5 separate regions of the Homo sapiens genome follow, and all the other regions are linked to region 2. The links come from fine-mapping of genetic effects on gene expression. A gene starts in region 2. Each other region holds a variant in brackets. All regions are shown on one strand. Distances are between the middles of the regions.

Region 1 (4,121 bases), 80 kb after region 2:
GGCAGTCAGAATTTCTACGAAGCTCCCCCAGGAGGGTCTACCGTGCTGTGAGAGTAGAGCACCCAGTTCTTAGGGCCTCCCGCTGACCCTGCTGTCCCCGAGACTGAAGCCCCTCCTTTCTCCGAAGCTCTCAGCCCTAGGCCTGGCCCACGAAGGCTGCTTAGTAAGCAGCGCAGCAAGCCCAGTGTGTCGGAGCAGAGCCGGCCTCCAGCTTCTCAGATGGTGGGAGGGGCCCCACCTGCAGAAATTACCAGGGACCAAAAGTCCTCGGATGGGAGACGGATGTCATAGGGATAGAGAAACTGCTTGTGGTCGGTGAAATGATGGCCTCAAAGATGTCCTCATCGGAACCTCCAGGCCTTGTATGTTACCCCACATGGCAAAAGGGGCTTCACAGATGAGATCGGGGACCTTGTGGGGAGGGGACCCTGAGCTATCCAGGTGTGCTCTATATGTAATCAGTGTCCTTCTAACACGGATGCAGGAGGGGCCAGAGGTCAGAGAGGAGACAGTGGTGTGGAGACAGCAGCAGAGGCTAGAAGGGTGTGCGTGGAACACGGAGGAGGGGCCACCGGATGCTGGGAAAGGCAGGGAAATGGGTTCTCACCCAGGGCTTCAGGAAGGAACCAGCCCTGCCAACACCTTGATTTTAGGCCAGTGAGCCTGAACTTGCACTTCCAACCTCTGGAACCGCAATATATGTTTTAAGCCACTAAATTTGTGGTAGTTTGTCCAGGTGGCAATAGGACCCACATACACCAGCATCCTGAATTCCGATCCTTGGGCAGTTCTGAGAGGACAGGCTGGTGGGCTCCCCCTGGGCTCAGCAGCAGAGGCTGGATCCCTCAGGAACACAGCCACAGGGCACAGGCCTTGTCACATCCCGCGGTCCCCGCCTGGGGGCTGCTTCTCCAGAGCTGTAGTCAGAAGACCTGCTCTGGGTAAAGCAGTAAAGGGGTGAACTGTGGGAGGGAAAGGAAGCATCCTTTAGGCTCACTCTCCTCCTGCCACTGTGTCCAATGGAGGAAACACTGGGGGTGCTGCGGGGGGTGGTCAGCAGCCAACACAGGGCTGGGGGCAGAGGGCAGGGAGGAGGACGTGGTGCCAGGGCTGAGCCCACAGGGTCTTCATCCAGGGGGTTCTGACCACTTGGGTTCACACTGACACTGGGAGTCGGAAGGGCACAAGAACCTCTCCCAGGTTCTAAGCCAGGGCTCCCAAGGGGGCCGCCTGTTGACAAGAATCTCCTGTGGAGGGAGCGTGTTAAGAGTTAACATGACATAAAATTCACTTTTTTTAAACTCCATTCTGGGGCTTACCATTTTAAAGTGTGCAATCCAGTGGCTTTAAGTACTCACAATGTTGTGCCAGTATCACCACTATCTAATTCCAGAACATTTTCAACAGCCCCAAAGGAAGATCCCTTCCCCTAGCTCCTGGCAACCACGAATCGACTCCCTGTTTTTGTGAACTTTGTTTACTGTGGAGACTTCATCACACATGACATGGCCTTTTGTGTCTGGCTTCTTTTACTCAGCATGTTCCTGGGGTTCCCCAACTTGGGAGCATGTGTGAGAACTTCGTTTCTTTTTGTGGCCGTGTTCAATGGCATGGAGAGGCCACCTTTGTCCATGTGGCCATCACTGCTAGACCTGTGGGCCGGCCCCGCCTTCTGGCTACTGTGAATAGTGCAGGTGTGAACTTCACAGAGGTTTTTGTTTGAACACCTTGTTTTCAGTTCTCTTGCGTATAGGCTTAGGGACTGCTGGGTCACAGTTCCAGCAG[T/C]TGTTTGCTCTTGGGAGCTTTTAAAAGAGATTCCTAGTCCCTTCCCAAGGAACAGATGATCTAGTCAAGCTGGGGTGAGGCCAGGGATCTGTATTTCTAGGACACTCACCTGCAATGCCTTCTTGTTACCAGCAAATGAAACCATTATTCCGTGAGTTAATATCCAATTAAGGCGGTGGTGCCAGCCACTTTTTTAATGAAGAATTTCAATATTTCTCTAGAAATGTCTATCTAACCTGTATATAAAATGGGAGACAACCCTTTTGCATATCCTTGACTCTATATTTTGTGTCCTGTGAAATCAAAATCTATGTCAACCCTCCCATTATTTCCAGTAGGCAGCACCCTCCGCCCGCCGTGGGAGGCAGGCAGCCTGGCGGTGAGGGCTTCAGAGCTCAGGCCCAGGCCAGACCTGGGTTTTCGCCTGAGAAATGGCTCCGAGAGCCCTGGGCGGGATCATGCCCATGAACCATTGGCCTGAGGCACAGAGACGACCGCTCAGCAGGTCCCAGGACCATCGCTGTGGGCCAGGCTCACCTACTGTGCGTGGCTTTCCTGGGAGGTCTCCTTGGAGCCATCATATGTGGGGCACGCTCTGCACGGAACAGACAAGTGTGTGTGCAAAGAAAGATCTAGACTTGAGTGTCCTATACAGGGGAGGGGGCCAAAGGGGGAGTCACTATTTGTATCTCATCTCAAAGGCTCCTGCAATCGGGGCCACTGCCTGAGTCTCTAGAGAGAGCCAGGGCAAAGGATGACATCTGGCCCCTCTCACGGTCCCCAGGCCCCCTGTGAACCCCAGGTGTTATCTGTGGTTGTGGCTGGTTGGTCTTTTTTTTGTTTTTTGTTATTTTTTTGTAGAGACAGAGTCTTGCTTACTTTGGCCAGGCTGGCCTCAAGTGATCCTCCTGCTTCGGCCAGCCAGTCTTGGGATTTCAGGCAGAGCCACTGCCAGCTGGCCTTTTCTGGCTTGTTAAAAAGATGTAGCTGTTCACTAGGACAATGAGAGCCTATGCCAGGGGCAAAAAGGAATCCTTTCGAAGGGGGGTTTGGCCCAGCCCAGGACCACGAGTGGGCCTAGGTGACAGAACGTGGCCTCAACCTCCAGGCACGTGTGTCCCTGTAATGGCTGACACCGGCGCTGGCTGTCAGGCACATGGCTAAGCACATGGCCTGGGTGACACCATGTACCAAACACACAGCAGTCGGTGGAGTGAAGGCCCCTGGCTAGGGCCCACAGCAGGAGTGGCCGGGCTGAACTGGACCCAGGCAGCTTGAGTCTAGGGCCAGGGCCACGACATCCTCTCCAGGACCTCCAAGGCAGACCCCGGAATCCCACGGCTGCCACCCAGCAAAGGGGGCGTCCCTCCAGGGCCTCTTCTGTTGGGTGGCACATCTGAATGCCAGACTCAGCCATCTCAGCAGACCACATGGATCCGGTTCCTCCCGGAGACCTAATCCCCTTTCTACATAAACTCTCCACCAGGGCGTTCTCTCTCCAGGCTCACCCTCACCTGCTCCTTCACTCAATCCTCCCAGACTCTGTCCCAAGGCCCCCCAGCATCTGGGTATCCTCCTGGTGTGTCACTGTCCCTTTAGAGAGAGACAGACAGACATGGGACATCACACAGACACCAGCAGGAGAGAACAAGGGTTAAGTACACAGGTTTTGGGACTGAGGGCAACATGAGTTCAAATTCTGCCTTGGCTACTAGTTGTATGACTGGGCAAGGGGACGAGTGATTCCCGGGCTTCTGTTTCACCTGTGTGATGGGCCCAGTGATGCCCACCTTACAGTGTGTGGGGAATGAAACAAAAACACATGTTGTAACTAGCACAGCGTGCCTGGGCACACAGTTCCTCATGACATCATTCCGGCAACTGGACAGAAAGGGTCCTCGCCTTCTGGTTTGAGGCAAAACCTTTAACATAACCCTGTCCTTTATGGTCCTGACCACCAGACGGTGAGTGGCCTGCACCTGTAGAGACCTGTGAGACGAGAGGCTCCAGAGCCAACAGCATGCAAGGCCCGCATGTGGGTAAGGAGAGCTGCAAGGCCGCATGTGGGTAAGGAGAGCTGCAAGGCCCCATGTGGGTAAGGAGAGCTGCAAGGCCCGCATGTGCGTAAGGACAGCTGCAAGACCCCCATGTGGGTAAGGAGAGCGGCAAGGCCCCATGTGGGTAAGGAGAGCAGCAAGGCCCGCATGTGGGTAAGGAGAGCTGCAAGGCCGCATGTGGGTAAGGAGAGCTGCAAGGCCGCATGTGGGTAAGGAGAGCTGCAAGGCCGCATGTGGGTAAGGAGAGCTGCAAGGCCGCATGTGGGTAAGGAGAGCTGC
Region 2 (4,121 bases):
TGTCCAGGAGGGCGCTGCAGCCCCGCCCCCTCCGCAGCCTGTCCCAGGCCTCCCTCCTCTCTGTTCTGCCATGCGGCCTCCTTTCAGTCCCTCCTGCTGGCCAGGTCTCTGCCTGCCCCAAGGCCTTTGCACAGAGAGTCCCCAGCCCAGGACAGTTTCCCGCCTTTCTTTAACTCCTTTTCCTTGGGATGTCTCAGCATAAGAATCACTTCCTCTAGGAAGCCTCTTCTGACACAAACCCCTCCACTGCCGTCACAGCAAATACTCCTTTCATGGTCTAAGGTGCTACCTTTTCATAGCAGTGCAGTTTTTTTTTCTTTTTTTTGAGACAGAGTCTCATTTTGTCACCCAGGCTGGAGTGCTGTGGCGCTTGGTTCACTACAACCTCTGCTTCTGGGTTGAAATGATTCTCCTGTCTCAGCCTCCCAAGTAGCTGGGATTACAGGTGACTGCCACCTCGCCCAGCTAGTTATTGTATTTTTAATAGAGACGGGGTTTCACCATGTTGGCCAGGCTGGTCTTGAACTCCTGACCTCAAGTGATCCGCCCTCTTTGGCTCCCCAAAGTGTTGGTATCACAGGCATGAGCCACCACACCCTTCCAGCAGTTCAGTTTTAATTGTTCATTTGTTTGTGGAATCATTTCAGTGTTTGGCTCTGCCCACTTGGATGTAAGCTCCAGGAGCTCTGGGAGACCAAGTACACCATCTGTTTTGCCCATTGCTGGAACTCCGTGGTTGGGCACCTGCCTGGCACCTAGTGGGTTCTCCTTAATTCATCTTTTAAATGGATGGGTGGATGGATGGATGGGAGGATGGGTGGGTGGGTGGACAGATGGATAGATGAGAGGATGGTTGGATGGATGGGAGGATGGTGGGTGGGTGGATGGATGGATGGATGGATGGGAGGGAGGGGGGTGGGTGGGTGGGTGGATGGATGGGAGGGAGGATGGATGGATGGATGGGAGGGAGGGAGGATAGATGGATGGATGGAAGGATGGTGGGTGGATGGATGGGAGGGTGTGTAGGTGGGTGGATGGATGGATGGATGAGAGGGTAGGGGGGTGGATAGATGGATAGATGGGAGGGTGGGTGGGTGGATGGACAGACAGATGGGCGGGCGGGCAGATGGATGGACGGATGGATGGATGGATGGATGGATGGATGGATGGATGGATGGGAGGGTGGATGGATGGATGGATGGAGGGTGGATGGATGGATGCCAGGGAGGGAGGATGAGTGGGTGGGTGAATGGATGGATGGATGGGAGGATGCTGGGTGGGTGGATGGATGGATGGATGAATGGTTGGGAGGGTGGGTGGATGGATGGACGGACAGTCGGCCGGCCGGATGGATGGATGGGAGGATGGGTGGATGGATGTATAGATGGATTGATGGACGGGTAGGCAGGTGGATGGATGGATGGATGGATGGACGGACAGGTGGGTGGGTGGATAGATGGATGGGTGGATGGAGTATGAAGGAAAGATGTTCTGGGGTGAAGACTGGTTCTGGGCGTTTTGTAACCAAGGGGGCGGCCTGAGGGGGCGTGCACGCCCGCGGGAGTTAAGGATGGGCGCCCGCGGGCGTGACGGGGCCGCGGGGCGTGGGCGCCGCTCCCCGGGGCTGGAGCCGGCAGAGGGCGCTCCGGGCTCGCTGGACACCCGCGCTTCGGCCTCTGCTGCGCGCCGCGAGTGGGAGGGGGGACTTTAGAAGCGGGGAGAGCAGGAGACTTTTGGGGAGCAGGCCCCAGGGGCGCCGCCCCGCCCCCAGGCCCCACATACCCCTCCCCTCCGGGTAGCCCCCTCTGTGGCTGCGCCCGCGCCCCTCGCCCCGGCGGGCAGTCCTCAGGCCCCGCGCCCGGCCGGCGGGGGTGGGGGCGGCGGGGAGCGGGCACGTGGCTCGGGGTCCGGCCGGCCCGCCCCCCGGCGCCGGCCAGTCCCCGCGGTGTCCGCGGCCGCGGGGGCAGCGGGAGAGAGGGCGGGGCGGCGCGGGCAGCGCGGGGAGGGGGTCGCGCGGGGGCGGGCCGCAGCTGGGCGGGGGTCGGCGGGCTTCCGGGCGGCGGCGGCGGGCGCGGCGCGATGTGCGAGCGGGCGGCGCGCCTGTGCAGGGCCGGCGCGCACAGGCTGCTCCGGGAGCCGCCGCAGCAGGGCCGGGCGCTGGGCGGGCTGCTGCGCTGGGTGGGCGCCAGGATGGGCGAGCCCCGGGAGTCGCTGGCCCCCGCCGCCCCCGCGGACCCCGGCCCAGCCTCGCCGCGCGGGGGCACCGCCGTCATCCTGGACGTGAGTACGCGCCGGCCGGGACCCCCGCCGTGGCCTCCGCTGGGACCCGGAGCCCCCTCCGCCCCTCGGGCGGACCCCGACGCCGCGACCCGCGAGGCCCTCCCTACCCGGGCAGGAGACCCCCGGCCCCTCCGCGTGCCGGAGCGGGAGCCCCCAGCCCCGCCACGTCCAGGCCGGTCTCCAGCCCAGTCCTCTCCCTGGACCGGGAGACCCCCCTCCTCCGCCCCTCCACCGGCGCTTCTCGGAGTCCCTGCCTGCCCACAGTGGGGAGCCGTGAGCCCCCGGACCCGGCCACTGTCCCCCTAGTTTTGTCCAAGCCAAACCCCCACCCTTTACCCCGCGGGACCGGAGCCCCTCGCCGCGTCCAGCCGCCTCCTCCTCTCCATCCCGGATCCTGTCCGGAGCGATACTTTTCTGAGACCCCTAACAACCCCTACCTCTAGCCCACCTCTCTTCGCCCTAGACCCTGAGCCCCCGTTCATCTCACGCTCAAAGACCCTTTGCCCCAGCTACTGCCACTTTAAAAGTGAAGCCCCCTCCCCACCTTCTGTCTTCTCGTCTCCTTTCCATTGAGCCAGAGCCATCGCCCATCAGCCCTGAGCTGGTACCCCTCTGGTCTTCCCCACCCCGCCCCCTTCCATTCCAAGTCCTCTGTTCCCTTCCCCACACCCCTCTACCCTACAGAGAGCTGGGTCCTCTTCATGGACCAGACTCACCCCTCACCCCTCCTAACTCCCCTGGGACCCAAATCACCCATCTCTGGGAAGCCCACCTCACCCTCCCACCCGCCCCACCCGGGAGGGAGGAATCTTCAGGGGGCGGCTCGGAGGAGGAGGACTTCTCCCAGCAGAGAGTGCTAGGAGGAGGTGGAGGAGGCTTCTGGGGATGTTGACTGCGTGTTTCAGCGAGGGTCCTGCTGGGGTGGGGCTGGGGGCTGCCTCTGCCTGTGTGGTGGATTTCTGGGAGAGTGGTGGGTGTGTGTGAATGTGCACACGCGTGTATCGCGGATCCCTGTGAGTCGGGGGATTCCCTCCCTTCCTCTCTCCTCTTCCCTGCTCCTGGAACCCTTGGCCGGGGTCTGGGCTGGGAGGGCCGGCCAGAGCAGGGGGAGCTCTAGAGTGCCACACTCGCAGGCACACATTCACACACTCACGCACTCGCTTACGCACGCACACACAGCCAGAGACACACCCATGCAGCCAAACCATCCCCTCCTCAGGACCCCCGCAGAGCTCCCACTGAAAGTCCTGGGCAGAGCCCTGCAGCCCCAAGCTGCCCTGCATGGAAGCCCTGCCCAGTCAGGGTGGGGGCTCTGAGGTTCCATCTCCTCACCTGCCAAAAGGAGTGATGAGCGGGGGGTGGGGCGGGAGGTGCTCATGCAGACTCCTGGAGCTGGCTGACATTACCAGGTGTCAGCCCTGCCATGTCACTCATGTGTTCAGCATTCCTGCCCAGAGCCGGCACCTACCTGGTGCCTGGCCTCAAGGGGGATCTGGGACACCCAGATAGGGACCCCAGTTTTGAGGAGCCTTGCCCAGTCAGGAACGGGGCTGCGGGGTGCCCAGGCTGGATCTTTGAGGAGGGCTTGGGGATCTGAGGTTCAGCCAGGAGGAGGGGTGATGTTTGAGAGGCCCTCCCATAGCTGTGCTTCAGTCTCACCGCCCAGGTGCCTAGAAATGACCAAGGGTGCCCCCTTTCTCGTTGCCTGGAGGGATGGGGGGCGAGGGCATCTGTCCTTTACCCCAAGGCGAGGACAGAGGGTGGAAGGGTCAGAGTGAGTATTACCTCCTCCTCCTCCATGGCTGACCTGGCCCCAGCAGCCCTCCCTGGTGTCGGGAAAT
Region 3 (4,121 bases), 23 kb after region 2:
GGCGGGGTCTTGGCAGAGGAGGCCAGGAGAGCAGGGCAGGGTTTGGGAGACCCAAGATCCCCCAACACAGCATCATTTTCATCATCCCGTCCTTGAGCGACGTGGGTAAGCAGAGCTTTCTCCCTTCTGCTGTAAAGTCTTTGCAGCCCAAAGCATCTCCACTGGATCCAAAAGCCTTGAGAAATGTCCTTGCAGAATCTCAGGACAGAGGTGGAAATTCTGTTCCACACCACAGAGCAAAACTTGGAAAAAACTTTCTTTTTCGTCTTTTCCCCAGAGTTCCGCTAAGACTCCCTCTCTGATTTCCCCCCAGGCTCCTCTCTGGCCACCTCCTTTTGATTACTAAGCCCCGGGCACTTTCCTCCCTTCAGCTGCTTTTGATTCCGTTTTGTCATTTTCCTTAGTAGCAGCCTGGAGATCCAGGAGCCCTAGGAATCCTCCTTGCAGGAGGAAGGAGGGAGGGAAGGTCGTGGATTCTTCTTGCCTGATCATTATCCTTGTCACAGCAACAACAAAACTACCAGTCACTATCACTGCCACCATCACCGTCATCTATATTGTAGCACCTACTGTTGATTGAGTCTTTGCTGTGTGGCAGGCCCTGTGCAGAGCATTGTACACGCATGTTGCTGTTTAATCTTCGCTACAACCTTGTAAGATAGATGCTTCAGTGACCCCATTATACTCTGGGAGGTCACAGAGCTAGTAAGTGGTGAAGCCAGGGTTCAAATTTGGTCTCTAAACCTCTAGCCTCTGCGTTGGAAATGCTACAGCCTCTAAGACTGGACCCCAGGAGGCCGTGGGGTCCTCCCTTCCCTTTGCAAAGCAAATTCACCAGCACCAGCTTTCCCCCAACTCCTGTGCTAGACCCCACCTCCAATTTCCCTCCCACCCCTTTCCCCTCAGTGCCTCTTCTCTTCCTTCCACAGGTATATGAGGGTGGGAGCAACGTGGACCAGTTTGTGACCCGCTTCCTCCTGAAGGAGACGGCCAATCAGATCCAGTCGCTGCTGAGCTCAGTGGAGAGTGCGGTGGAGGCCATCGAGGAACAGACCAGCCAGCTCCGGTGAGTCTCTGAGACCCTGCAGGGTCCCATGGGGGTATGCCGTGCACGCGCACGTGCCCACCTGCTGCTTGGTGGGGATGTCTGTGTACCTAAGAGCTGGGTGACCTTGGGCAAGTTGCCACAGCTCTTTGTGCCTTTGGTGCTCCATTATGTAATATAGGCACAATTATATACCTAAAATCTCAGCCATTGCAAGGATTGAATGAGATAGTAAATGCTCAGGAGAATGCCTGGTGTACATATTTATTAATACAGTGAAGACACCATTTCCCAGACTCTAATTTGTTTTGCTGCATCCACATGCTAATTGTTTATGCAGAACTATTCTGTTGTTTGGCCCACGTTTTATTTATTTATTTATTTTTTTGTTTTAGACAAAAAGTGTCGCTCTGTCGCCCAGGAGTGCAGTGGCGTGATTTTGGCTCACTACAACCTCTCCCTCCCTGGGTTCAAGCAATTCTCATGCCTCAGCCTCCTGAGTGGCTGGGACTGCAGGTGTGTAACACCATGCCTGGCTGATTTTTGTATTTTTAGTAGAGACGGGGTTTTGTCATGTTGGCCAGGCTGGTCTTGAACTCCTGGCCTCACGTGATCCACCTGCCTTAGCCTCCCAAAGTGCTGGGATGAAAGGTGTGAGCCACCACAGCTAGCCTATTTTCTCTTTCTCTCTCTCTCTTTCTTTCTCTCTTTCTCTCATTCGTTCTTTTTTCTTTTTCTATTTCCTTTTCTTTTCTTTTCTTTTTTTTTTTTTTTTGAGATCGAGTCTTGCTCTGTCACCCAGGCTGGAGTGCAGTGGCGAGATCTCAGCTCACTGCAACGTCCGCCTCCCAGGTTCAAGCGATTCTCCTGCCTCAGCCTCCCTAGTAGCTGGGATTACAGATGCCCACCAGCACACCCAGCTAATTTTTGTATTTTTAGTAGAGATGGGGTTTCACCATGTTGGCCAGGCTGGTCTTTAGGGTGATCCACCCGCCTCAGCCTCCAGGTGCTGGGATTGCAGGCTTGAGCCATGGAGCCCGGCCTTATTTTATTTATTGACACAGAATCTTGCTGTGTCCCCCAGGCTGGAGTACAGTGGCACCATTGTGGCTCACTGCAATCTCCAACTCAGGTTCAAGCAATTCTCCCACCTCAGCCTCCCAAGGAGCTGGGACTACAGGCATGTAGTCCCACCCACACCCAGCTATTTTTTTTTTTTTTTTTTTTGTAGAGACGGGGTCTCGCCATGTTGGCCAGGCTGTTCTCAAACTCCTGGTCTCAGCAATCCTGCTGTCTCAGTCTTCCAAAGGGCTGGGATTACAGGCAGGAGCCACCACACCCCAGCCCACTTTTGAAAATTAGAAAGCAGTTTAGGAAATGGCATATGGTTATAACTGCACTCTCGGCATCACATGCCGTAAGTGAAGTAACTGTAAAAATAAGCACCTGTCATTGTTTACGATCCAGCTTGAATCCTGAGGCTTGCCACCTCTCTGTTAAAAAGAGAGAC[TGGG/T]GGGAAATCAGAGAGGTGTTGAAGACAGTAGTAGCAAGTTGAGAGTTTCTCAGGAGGACTGAAAGAGACGTGAAAGAGGAGTGTTTCTTTCTGGTCTTGTGTTAGGCCTTGTTTGTGTGCTTGGAACCATGGGAATGCATCTGGGGTCCCATCCTAGGTGGTGGCTGCTGTGTTAGGGGTGTGACCTGGTATTTAGAGAGGAGCGACATTCTCGTGGCTCAGCAGTCCCATCTCCCGGGGAACACGAGCACCCGTCCCCCCGCCCACCTCCATTTGCTGTTTCAAATTGAGAAAAACCCTTCTTTGCTCAGTTCTTCCCAGAACAGCTGATGTGCTTGACACAGAAGAAAAAGAGAAAATGCAAACAGATGAGGGAAACAGCCAGGTGTCGGCACCCAAGCTCGATTGAGCCCTTAATTTTCCAGGCAGAGAGGTACCTCAGGACCAGGATATTGGTTTGCTGGGGGACTGGGGTTTGATCGTGTGTTTCTTCGTAGTTGAAGAGCTGGTCCTGATCAGACATGATTGTGAAGGTAACTCTGAGACACTGTTTCCCAAATGAGTTTGATCTGAGCATTTGCGCTGAATCACCTGGGAAAATTAAAATACACATTCCTGGGCTCCTGGCCATACTCACTGGCTAGAATCCCTGGACTGGAGCCCAGAACTCTGCACATGTGGTCAGTCTTGTGATTCTTGGGTGCCCCAGAATTAGCAGCCATCGCTGTGAAAAAAGCTGACACTTAGATTTCCTGGGTTTTCCTGTTACTATCTTGATGAAAAACTTGCTGTTTTTCTCCTGCCGCAGAACAGATAGTATGGCTGCGCAGTTTTCAGGGCAGACTTCCCACACTGGGTCAGCTCCATCACGCGTCAGCAGTTACACCCACCTGCCCCCATGGTGGGGACCTTACTTGGGGATGTTGTCAGACGGGGCAGCTTGTCGTGATACCTCTGTTCCACACATGCCCCTCCCTCGAACTTCCCCAAATCTCAGCTAGTTTGGCTCTAGGCTGTGGGTCCCTGAGGACTATCCTGTTTCCCAGCCCCAGGACAGTCTCCCAGGATGTCACCTCTAGCACAGGCTACTGGCTCAGACCCCACCACCCGGGAGCCCTGAGCAACCCGTCATGGTCTGAGGGATACATTTAATTTCCTGCTGGTTTATAGAGAAGCCATGATTGACACCATAAAGACTCTGCCAGCCTCTCCCCTCCCAAGGCGGGAGTCGAGTTTGCTCCCTCCGCAAGGGGGAGAGCCTGGCGGAGTGTTCAAGGTTCACAAGAGACAAATTCCAGAATGCACCAAGACCGCGATGCACAGAGACCAAGCGGGTGTTGGGGCCGTGCACAGGGCACTCTGTGTGTCTTCTGGGGGAGTGTCTGTGTTTCTGTATGTCTGCCAGGAGCTTTTCAGCATCCTTTTGCATGGGAGGATTTGGTCATTCATTGAGCATTTTTGAGTCCCTACTATGTGCTGGACACAGTGCAAGGTGAGCTGTGTGTGTGTGTGTGTGTGTGTGTGTGTGTGTGTGTGTGTGTGTGTGTCTGCCTCTGCCTGTGG
Region 4 (4,121 bases), 33 kb after region 2:
GGTCCTAGCACAGGGTCTTTGAGAGGGGTCTTCTTGGGCCCCCTGTGCACTGAGGCTTGAGTGACAACAGCCTGACCTGTAGCACGAGGGGAGGAGTAGCCTGGGCAGGAGTGCGGCCGTTCCCGAGACTCGGCGTGGCCACGAGGGGCCATTCTTGAGTAAGTAGCCAGGATGGGGGGGCAGGACCCACTCCACTCCAGGAGGACAGACTGCACAGGAGCAGGGGCCAGACTTGATCTTTTTCCATTACGTGAATAAGTGGGAGGCTCCAGGGTGAAGTAGGGCCACCCCGATGCGCTGTGGAGAGGAGGCACGGTGGACGTAGAGGCTCTGGTTTGTCGAGTTGGAGACGGCAAGCCTGGAGAGCCAGGTGAGATTCTACTTCCCAGGCATGGTGCACCTAAAGCTGCACGGAGGTGTGTCCACCCCAAGATGGAATCCAGCCCGGCCCCTTCCTCTAGGCTGAGCACTGTAGCCCCTCCTCCCCAGCTTTTGGCCCCCGCTTTATGGTCACTTGGGGCTTCCTCATTGTAGTGCACTTGCAGAGAGGATTCTGGGGCGGCATAGACTATCAGCACCTTTAAAATGACGTGAGTGCGGGCCCCTGGGTCCCATAGAGCAATGGGGGACTTGCCTGCAGCCCCTTCCTCTGTGGCCCAGCACCCCCTCCCCTCAGCCTCCTTTGGTCAGGTCAGGTACAGTGCAGTGGGGGTGTTGCAAGGATTAAATGAGAGGACAAGTAGAAGGAAGAAGAGGGAAGATGCTTTGATTTTTAAAGGTTTTTTGATTTTTAAAGGTTTTTTGAGACCAAATCTTGCTTTATTGTCCAGGCAGGAGTGAGTGTGTAGTAGTGGAAGCTCAGCTCACTGCAACCTCTCACCAGAGGGTTTAAATGAGTCTCATGCCTCAGTGTCCTGCATCGCTGGGATTACAGGGATGTGCCACCAGGCCCAGCAAGTTTTATTTTTTTTTTTTTTAAAGAGACAGTGTTTTGCCATGTTGGCTAGGCTGGTCTTGAACTCCTGACCTCACGTAATCCACCTGCCTCGACCCCTCAAGACTTCCCAAAGTTCTGCGATTACAGGCGTGAACCATCACATCCAGCCACCTGGTTTTGTTTAAATAAATGTTCACACTTTAACATGACATTTCAGCTGGGCACAGTGGCTGAAGTTTGCAATCCTGGCACTTTGGGAAGCCAAGGTGAGAAGACAGCCTGAGCCCAGGAGTTAAAGACCAGCATGGGGAACATAGCAAGACCCCATCTCTATTGGGACAGTTTTTGAATTAGGCCGAGTGGTGCACTCCTCTAGTCCCCGCTACTTGGAAGGCTGAAGTGATTGTGCCACTGCACTCCAGCCTGGGCAACAGAGTGAGACCCTATCTCAAAAGAAAAACTACACTGCATTGATTCTATTTAATAAATAGCTGTTGGCCACTATAAGAAGCCAGGCCTTATTCCCTGTGCTGGGGTCACCCTGTCGAGTCTCGATGGAGGTCAAGACAGGAAGAAACATTGAAGGCAGCCGTTGTGTATAGTGGTGGGTCTCAGGCCACCCCAGGGGAACAGCACTGAGGTGGCCTTGGTTGAGCTCCAGCCTCCTCCCCCCGACCATCTCCTGTTGCAGCATCACTGCCGTGAGGCTCTCAGATGGCTTCACCTTTGTCATCTATGAGTTCTGGGAGACAGAGGAGGCGTGGAAGAGGTGAGATGCTGGGTCCCCACAGCAGGTGAGGGAGACAGAGGGAAGTGGGGGGGCTGTCTTCCTGGAGCCAGGCATCCTTGGAGGGGAGGGTAA[G/T]GCCGAGTCCAGTCAGCAGATTCCCGAGGCATCTACCCGCTGGCATGCTTGCGTCAGTAAACCCTGGTGGAGGCAGGAGCTCTTGGTGGGTAGTGAGAGCCCCCACCACACTCAGCTGGGCTTTCCTGCTTTCCCCAGGGTTGCTTCTGTGCCCCTAGAGCACCTTGTCCTCCTGGAACAGCCCTGGGGGCCGAGGCACTGCCTTCTTTACCACCCTGTAGAGTTGAGGGCCTAACCTAGAAGGTGACTCAGTCCCCATGTGATCAATTGTTCCAGCGACTAACCTCCCCTCCAGCTGAGTGCCCGGTACGAGGGACGGAGATGGGGTAGGGTGTCAGCAGCTCTGATGGGCCTTAGGCCTTTGTCCTCTGCTCAGCACACATCTGGGAGAGGGTGGAGACTATTGCTGATGCGCCAGACCCCACAGGCAGGAAGCGGGGCCTAGGGGTAGCCCATGCCCCCATCTCCTGCTTCCCTGGTAAACACTCACGGTTTGCTGACAAACTCAGGACCCCAGTGGGAACAGGGGCGGTCATGAGAAGTGAGAGTGTCCCCTCCCTGTCCGTACTTCAGTGACTCATAAAACGAGGGACTAAAAGCCTTCGCAGCTTCTGTGTTGTCATGGGTCCCAGGCAGAGGATGGCCCCACTCCTCCTGCTAGGGTAAAGGGGGAGGTAGAGGCTCTGTGCAATGAGTGGGGGGATCCCGCTGCCCATTTATAGCTCACAGGGAAAAAGAGAAGCTCACTGCCCACCCCAGAGTCAGCCTCCCTGGGCACCCCCTCACCTTCCCACAAAGGCTCTGAGTCCAAAGACCCCCCGTGCTTATTGATAAGCTCCCCATTTTGGGCTAGAGCTAGGATTAACAGGGGAGCCACACGCGGAGCTCCACTCCTGCCACCCCTGACTCACACATGTCCCTGCGTCACAGGCACCTGCAGAGCCCCCTGTGTAAGGCGTTCCGGCACGTCAAGGTGGACACACTGAGCCAGCCTGAGGCCCTCTCCAGGATCTTGGTGCCAGGTAGGGGGCAAAGGCCTGGAACTGCAGTGGCCACCTGACTGGAGAGAAGGGCAAGAGCCTAGAGGCTGCCCCATATCTCCCGGGGACTTGCCTGCTTGCTGTGGGCCCACTGTCAGCTCCTGCCACCAATGCCAGGCTCAGAGCCAGCCCTGAGGTGGCCCCACATACAGGTATGCCTGCCAGAGCTTGCACCAGAGCACCCCCTCCACGGCCCCCTACTTCCAGCCAGACTGAATTTCCCTTCCCAGGTGTGTGGTTTGCACCTGGGTGACCAGCAAGGACCTGTGTGTCACACAAGGACTCAAAGCCATCCCCCGACCTGTCATTCAAGACGACCACCACCAGCTACGAGGCTGCCCACATTCGCACTCCTTCCCTCTAACGTGTCTCTCTCCTTTTAGCTGCTTGGTGCACGGTGGGACGGGACTGACAGCCTCCCAGAGGCCCGTGGAGGAGCCCACCAGCCCCTTCTTCTTGTGAAGGAAATCCCGTTTTTTTCTAGACAGACACTTTGGTGCAGAAGCTTCTTTTCAATCCATCCTCCACAAGAAGGTGTTTCCCTGTTGTTAAGTGAAGGAGGCCGCCCCTGCCCCCACCTGAGAAGGCAGAGCAGTGTCTGTGCTGCCAGGTCCTGGTGAAGCCCAAGGTTGAAGGGGGCGGCTTCCTGGAGCCAGCACCCCTGCCTCCTGGTCCTGGCCTCTCCCCTACCCCTCACATGGCCACGCATGACCCACACTGACCACACCCTGCCCTCTTCGGTGACATTCTTCTACCTAGTAGGAGTCATGCCCCTGTAGTGCCCAACCTAGCCAGGTAGCCACCACTGTGCCCAGGCGCCAAATAAACCCTGGTTGGGAAGAGCTGTGTGCTCTGTGTCTGTTTCCTGGTTGACAACAGCAGGGGGCCAGGGACCCTTCAAGTGCTCCCAGCCTCAGTTTTCTGAACCATGAAATGGTGGTGGTCACTCTATGCGGTATTTGGGAACTAGGCTCATGCCTATTCAGGAGCTCAGCACCACACCTACCCTCAGGTCAGTAATTCAAAGGACTGGGCACAACTGTCAAAGTCACGGTCAAGGTAGGTAGATGACAGACAGACAGACAAAATCCAGCAAAGAAAGAGGCTCCCGGAGTGGGGGGCCAGGCACGGGGCTACCAGTAAAGGCCCATAGCACTGAACCCTCCCAGCTTCAATGCTGATAGAGCATCACCAATCAGGGATGCAGTCCTGAGTCTTACTGGGGTTCGGTGACGCATACACGCTGACACCTCATGGCTCAACACCCCACCATAAATCACAT
Region 5 (4,075 bases), 42 kb after region 2:
GAGCCAACAGTCCACTTGGCTTCCAGGCTCTTTGAGTCCAGCTGGTGGGAGGGAAAGCACAGTTTCCTTGGAGTCATCCACCCTCCACGGGGCATGGGCCAAGTGCATGGCGGTGTGGCGTGTTCCGGGCATACACCTCCTTGGGCCTGTCACAGCCAAGGGCAGGATTCGGGCATTTCCTGCGCCCTGGCCAAAGGACCATTTGAGTCCATCACCATCGCCAGCCATGCCTCCTCCCACTCCCTTCTGGGCTTCCCATTGCTGTGCAGTATCCTTACCTGACACCCTTGATCCTGACACTCCAAAGCCAATTATCTGGGCCTCAGCCCCTAGCTCCCTTTTATGGATTGAATCTTGTCTCCCAGAAACATCAGTTGAGGTTGAACCCCCGGAACCTGTGAACATAACCTTATTTGGAAATTGCATCTTTGTGGGTCCTAATTAATACAAGATGCAGGCAACTTATGATGAGATCACACTACTTACGGAGGTGGGAGGAGCTCACTTAGTGATGGGTATCTTTTTAAGAGAGAGATTTGGACACAGAGGATACACAGGGGAGAGTCACATGAAGACAAGAGCAGACACTGGAGTGAGGCAGCCACAAGCCAAGGAGTGCCGGCCACCCCTAGAACTGGGAAGACAGGAGGGAGCCTCCCCTAGAGCCCACAGAGGGAGCATGGCCCTAATGACACGTGATTTCAGACTCCTGGCCTCCAGAACTGTGATGCAACAAGCATCTGTTGTTTTAAGCCACCAGAGTGCGGTTATGGTCATTTATCACAGCGGCCATAAGAACTTTCCTCACCTTTGTACCAGAAACCCTTCGAACCCGCATAGCCCCATGAGCAGCCCAAGGAGGCAGAAGGCATCAGTCTCTCCAGCATCTTTATGAGGAAAAGAAATGGCATCGGTCTCCTGGCTGCATACAGCAGCCACGTAGGGTCAGCCCCCGGAGGGCCCCTTCCTGCCCGGCACTAGCTGCCCATCAGAACATCTCCCAGACCGCTGCCGCCGTGCTCTGCCCAAAGATGAAGGTGCCGACCAGCACAGAGACCACTCCCCAGACCTCCAGGCAGCACCTGCCAAGTGAATAAACCCATGTCAGAGCTTTTCTGGATTTTTGCACAAATAAGCCACACACACATAAAAAATTCACTATGTAGAGCCCAGTATGGAGTCATCAATTTGGAAAAAAGAAAAATTCAGAATATTTCCAGTTACCTGTAGGGATGGGTTTCCAAGACAATGGGAAGCAAAGTACCCAGGCAATTTTTTTTTTTTTTTTTTTTTGAGGTGGAGTCTCATTCTGTTGCCTAGGCTGGAGTGCAGTGGCACGATCTCGGCTCACTGCAGCCTCCACCTCCCGGGTTCAAGCAATTCTCCTGCCTCAGCCTCCCAAGTAACTGGGACTACAGACACACACGATGACACGAGGCCAATTTTTGTATTTTTAGTAGAGATGGAGTTTCATCATGTTTGCTAGGCTGGTCTTGAACTCCTGACCTCAAGTGATTCGCCCTCCTCAGCTTCCTAAAGTACTGGGATTACAAGCGCAAGCCACCGTTGCTGGCCGCAAGCAGTTTTTAAAAGCCCTCCGATCCCACCTGTTATGTCATAAGCTCATTCCTCCCCAGTATTTTATCAAATAAAAAGACATGGGGGCCAGGCATGGTGGCACAAGCCTATAATCCCAGCACTTTGGGAGGCTGAGGCAGGCGGATTCACCTGAGGTCATGAATTCAAGACCAGCCTGGCCAACATGGTGAAACCCCATCTCTACTAAAAATAAAAATAAAAAATTAGCCAGGCACGGTGGCAGGCACCTGTATTCCCAGCTATGTGGGAGGCTGAGGCAGAATTGCTTGAACCCGGGAGGCAGAGGTCGCAGTGAGCCAAGATTGCACCACTGCACTCCAGCCTGGAGGACAGAGCAAGACTCCATCTCAAAAAGAGAAAAAGACATGGAGAGAAGGGAGACACTACTTTGAAAAGTCCCCCCACCCTCCCTTTCTGTTCCTCAGCCTCTGATGAAATCCCATGAAAATGAAGGAGAAGACGCAAGCTCTAAGTCACACACGATCTCAGAGGGGTAGGGGACGAGGACGCAGGAGGCAGAGGTGGCTGGGACTGGCAGCCACCGAGGCCACATTTGTGAGCTTCGT[C/A]ATGTAACCAGAGATGGGGTAGACAAGGAGGTCAGAGCGATAACAAGATTCCCACAAAATGGCAGGGCCACCAGAGATATTTGTGGCCCCATTAACAAAGACCAGAAGGCCGGGTTGTCATGGAAGGAACATTTCTAACCGAGCAGCATCTCAGCACGGCTGTTCAGCGCCATAAACATCCATTCATCTGTGCGGGGACTGTGAGGCTAATGTGCCTGTGGGCTGTGGCACTCCTGGAGCAGCGCTGATGTATTAGAAGGACCCAAAGCAGTTTTAACGATAAAAATATCTTGAAAGCTCATCAGTAAAAACTGTTGTGAGCTCAGATCAAGGAACAAAACAAAAAGCATGAAGACTCCGAAAAGCATCCCAGGGAATGAGCGGCTTAGGGGGTTACCAGACATTGGGAGGCTGGTTCAATACCCAAGGCAGGTTTAGAAACATCCAGAAACACTGCTCTCAAATCCAGAAGAAACCGGGCCAGGCCTGCTCCTTTGCAAAAACCAAGCTTGGGCTCAATGGGGCTAGAGGGCCGGGGGTATAGGGGAACAGACCTACAGCTGGCACCCAAATTCACGATTGCTGCCATTTAACATTATCTGGGATGGGGTGAAGGGTGGCCCCCAAAATTCATGTCTACCTGGAACCTGTGCTTGCCAGCTTATCTGGAAACTGGGTTTTGCAGATGTAATTAAGGAAAAGATCTTGAGAGAAGATACAACCTAGATTTAGGGTGGACCCTAATCTGATGGTAGGTATCCTTATAAAAGAAAGGCAGCCAGGTGTGATGGTGGGCGTCTGTGGTCCCAGCTACTCAGGAGGCTGAGGCAGGAGGATTGCTTGAGCCCAGGGGGTTGAGGCTGTAGTGAGCCACAATTACGCCACTGCACTCCAGCCGGAGCAACAGAGCAAGACTCTGTCTCAAAAACTAAAATAAATAAAAGCAGAGGGATTTCTGAGACGCAGAGACACAGGGAGAAAGCTAAATAATGATAAAGGCAGAGACTGGAGTGATGTAGCCACAGGCCAAGGAGCACCTGGGGCCACCAGAAGCTGAGGCGCCTTCAGAGAGTCCAGCCCTGCCAACACCTTGATTTCACACTCCTGGCTCCAGAACTGGGGAAAAAATTCATTTCTGTTGCTTTAAGCCTCCCCACCATGCCCCAATTTATGGTAATTTGTTACAATAACCCCATAAAACTAATACATCATCTCTTTACCTGCCTCAGCCTCAGTTTCCCCATCTATGGGATGGGAGGGAGTCACCCAGAACCCCAGACTACCCAGGGGCGGCTGAGGAAGCGCACATCATTCACGTGTACATCGTCCTCTTCCGTGGGTCAGACTCAGCTGCTCAGTGGCAAAGTACAGAGGCTCAGTCGTGTCTGATCCACAGGTCCGCTCGGGGATAAATATTTGTCAAATGAAGGAAAGATCCAAATTATCTGGTCTCAACAGCATTGTATGCCAGGCAGGTGGGTTAGCATGGGGCCTGGGAGCCAGGGGCCTGGGTTGCATCCTAGCTCTGTCCTCACTAGCATCCGGGCCCGCCTCCTCAGCTGTAGGATGAAGACATGTGGGTATGGTGGGGAGGTGAACATGTAAAAGGACCTAGCTCAGTGCCTAGCAGAGGAGCCTGGGAACAGCGACCCACTGCTGTGATGATGGTGTCTGGCCGGCCATGGGGCCTTTCTAACCCAGCCTGCACCCTGATCCTGCCCTGGGTCCGAGCCAGGTAACAAAGGAGGGTACAGATGCACCACTGGGTGCTTCCAGAGGCTGGAATCTACATGAAATCCCAACCACAGACCCTCAGAGTGGAAGGGAAGGCCCTTGGAGGACCCGGTGTTACTGGCCCGGGCTCCTATCCTGGCTCAGATGCCCTCATACTGGGTAGACAGAGACTCTCT

What was found. PIP is the estimated chance that this variant, and not a neighbour inherited with it, causes the effect.
Region 1: its variant is the best candidate, but not a certain one, in a credible set for the expression of NECAB2 in left ventricle (GTEx, PIP 0.67).
Region 3: its variant is fine-mapped to the expression of NECAB2 in blood mononuclear cells (TOPMed, PIP above 0.99).
Region 4: its variant is the best candidate, but not a certain one, in a credible set for the expression of NECAB2 in whole blood (INTERVAL, PIP 0.66).
Region 5: its variant is the best candidate, but not a certain one, in a credible set for the expression of NECAB2 in sigmoid colon (GTEx, PIP 0.56).

Annotation. Positions count from the first base shown.
Region 1 is chr16:84,046,838-84,050,958 of GRCh38, forward strand. No RefSeq gene overlaps it. Among named protein-coding and RNA genes, the nearest start is that of SLC38A8, 6.1 kb to the left of the region's middle. RefSeq lists an enhancer at 1,706-2,590. The variant T/C (reference allele first, on the strand shown) is at 1,786.
Region 2 is chr16:83,966,570-83,970,690 of GRCh38, forward strand. It overlaps NECAB2 (N-terminal EF-hand calcium binding protein 2), which reads left to right and starts at 1,675. Exons shown (of 13, transcript NM_019065.3): 1 at 1,675-2,280. The coding sequence starts at 2,080. RefSeq lists a silencer at 1,551-1,740.
Region 3 is chr16:83,989,565-83,993,685 of GRCh38, forward strand. NECAB2 (N-terminal EF-hand calcium binding protein 2) reads left to right here. Exons shown (of 13, transcript NM_019065.3): 6 at 930-1,066. Among named protein-coding and RNA genes, the nearest start is that of NECAB2, 23 kb to the left of the region's middle. The variant TGGG/T (reference allele first, on the strand shown) is at 2,556.
Region 4 is chr16:83,999,096-84,003,216 of GRCh38, forward strand. NECAB2 (N-terminal EF-hand calcium binding protein 2) reads left to right here. Exons shown (of 13, transcript NM_019065.3): 11 at 1,629-1,706; 12 at 2,730-2,821; 13 at 3,223-3,681. The coding sequence ends at 3,251. Among named protein-coding and RNA genes, the nearest start is that of NECAB2, 33 kb to the left of the region's middle. RefSeq lists an enhancer at 3,229-4,011. The variant G/T (reference allele first, on the strand shown) is at 1,800.
Region 5 is chr16:84,008,796-84,012,870 of GRCh38, forward strand. SLC38A8 (solute carrier family 38 member 8) reads right to left here. Exons shown (of 11, transcript NM_001080442.3): 11 at 872-1,082. The coding sequence ends at 989. Among named protein-coding and RNA genes, the nearest start is that of SLC38A8, 32 kb to the right of the region's middle. The variant C/A (reference allele first, on the strand shown) is at 2,166.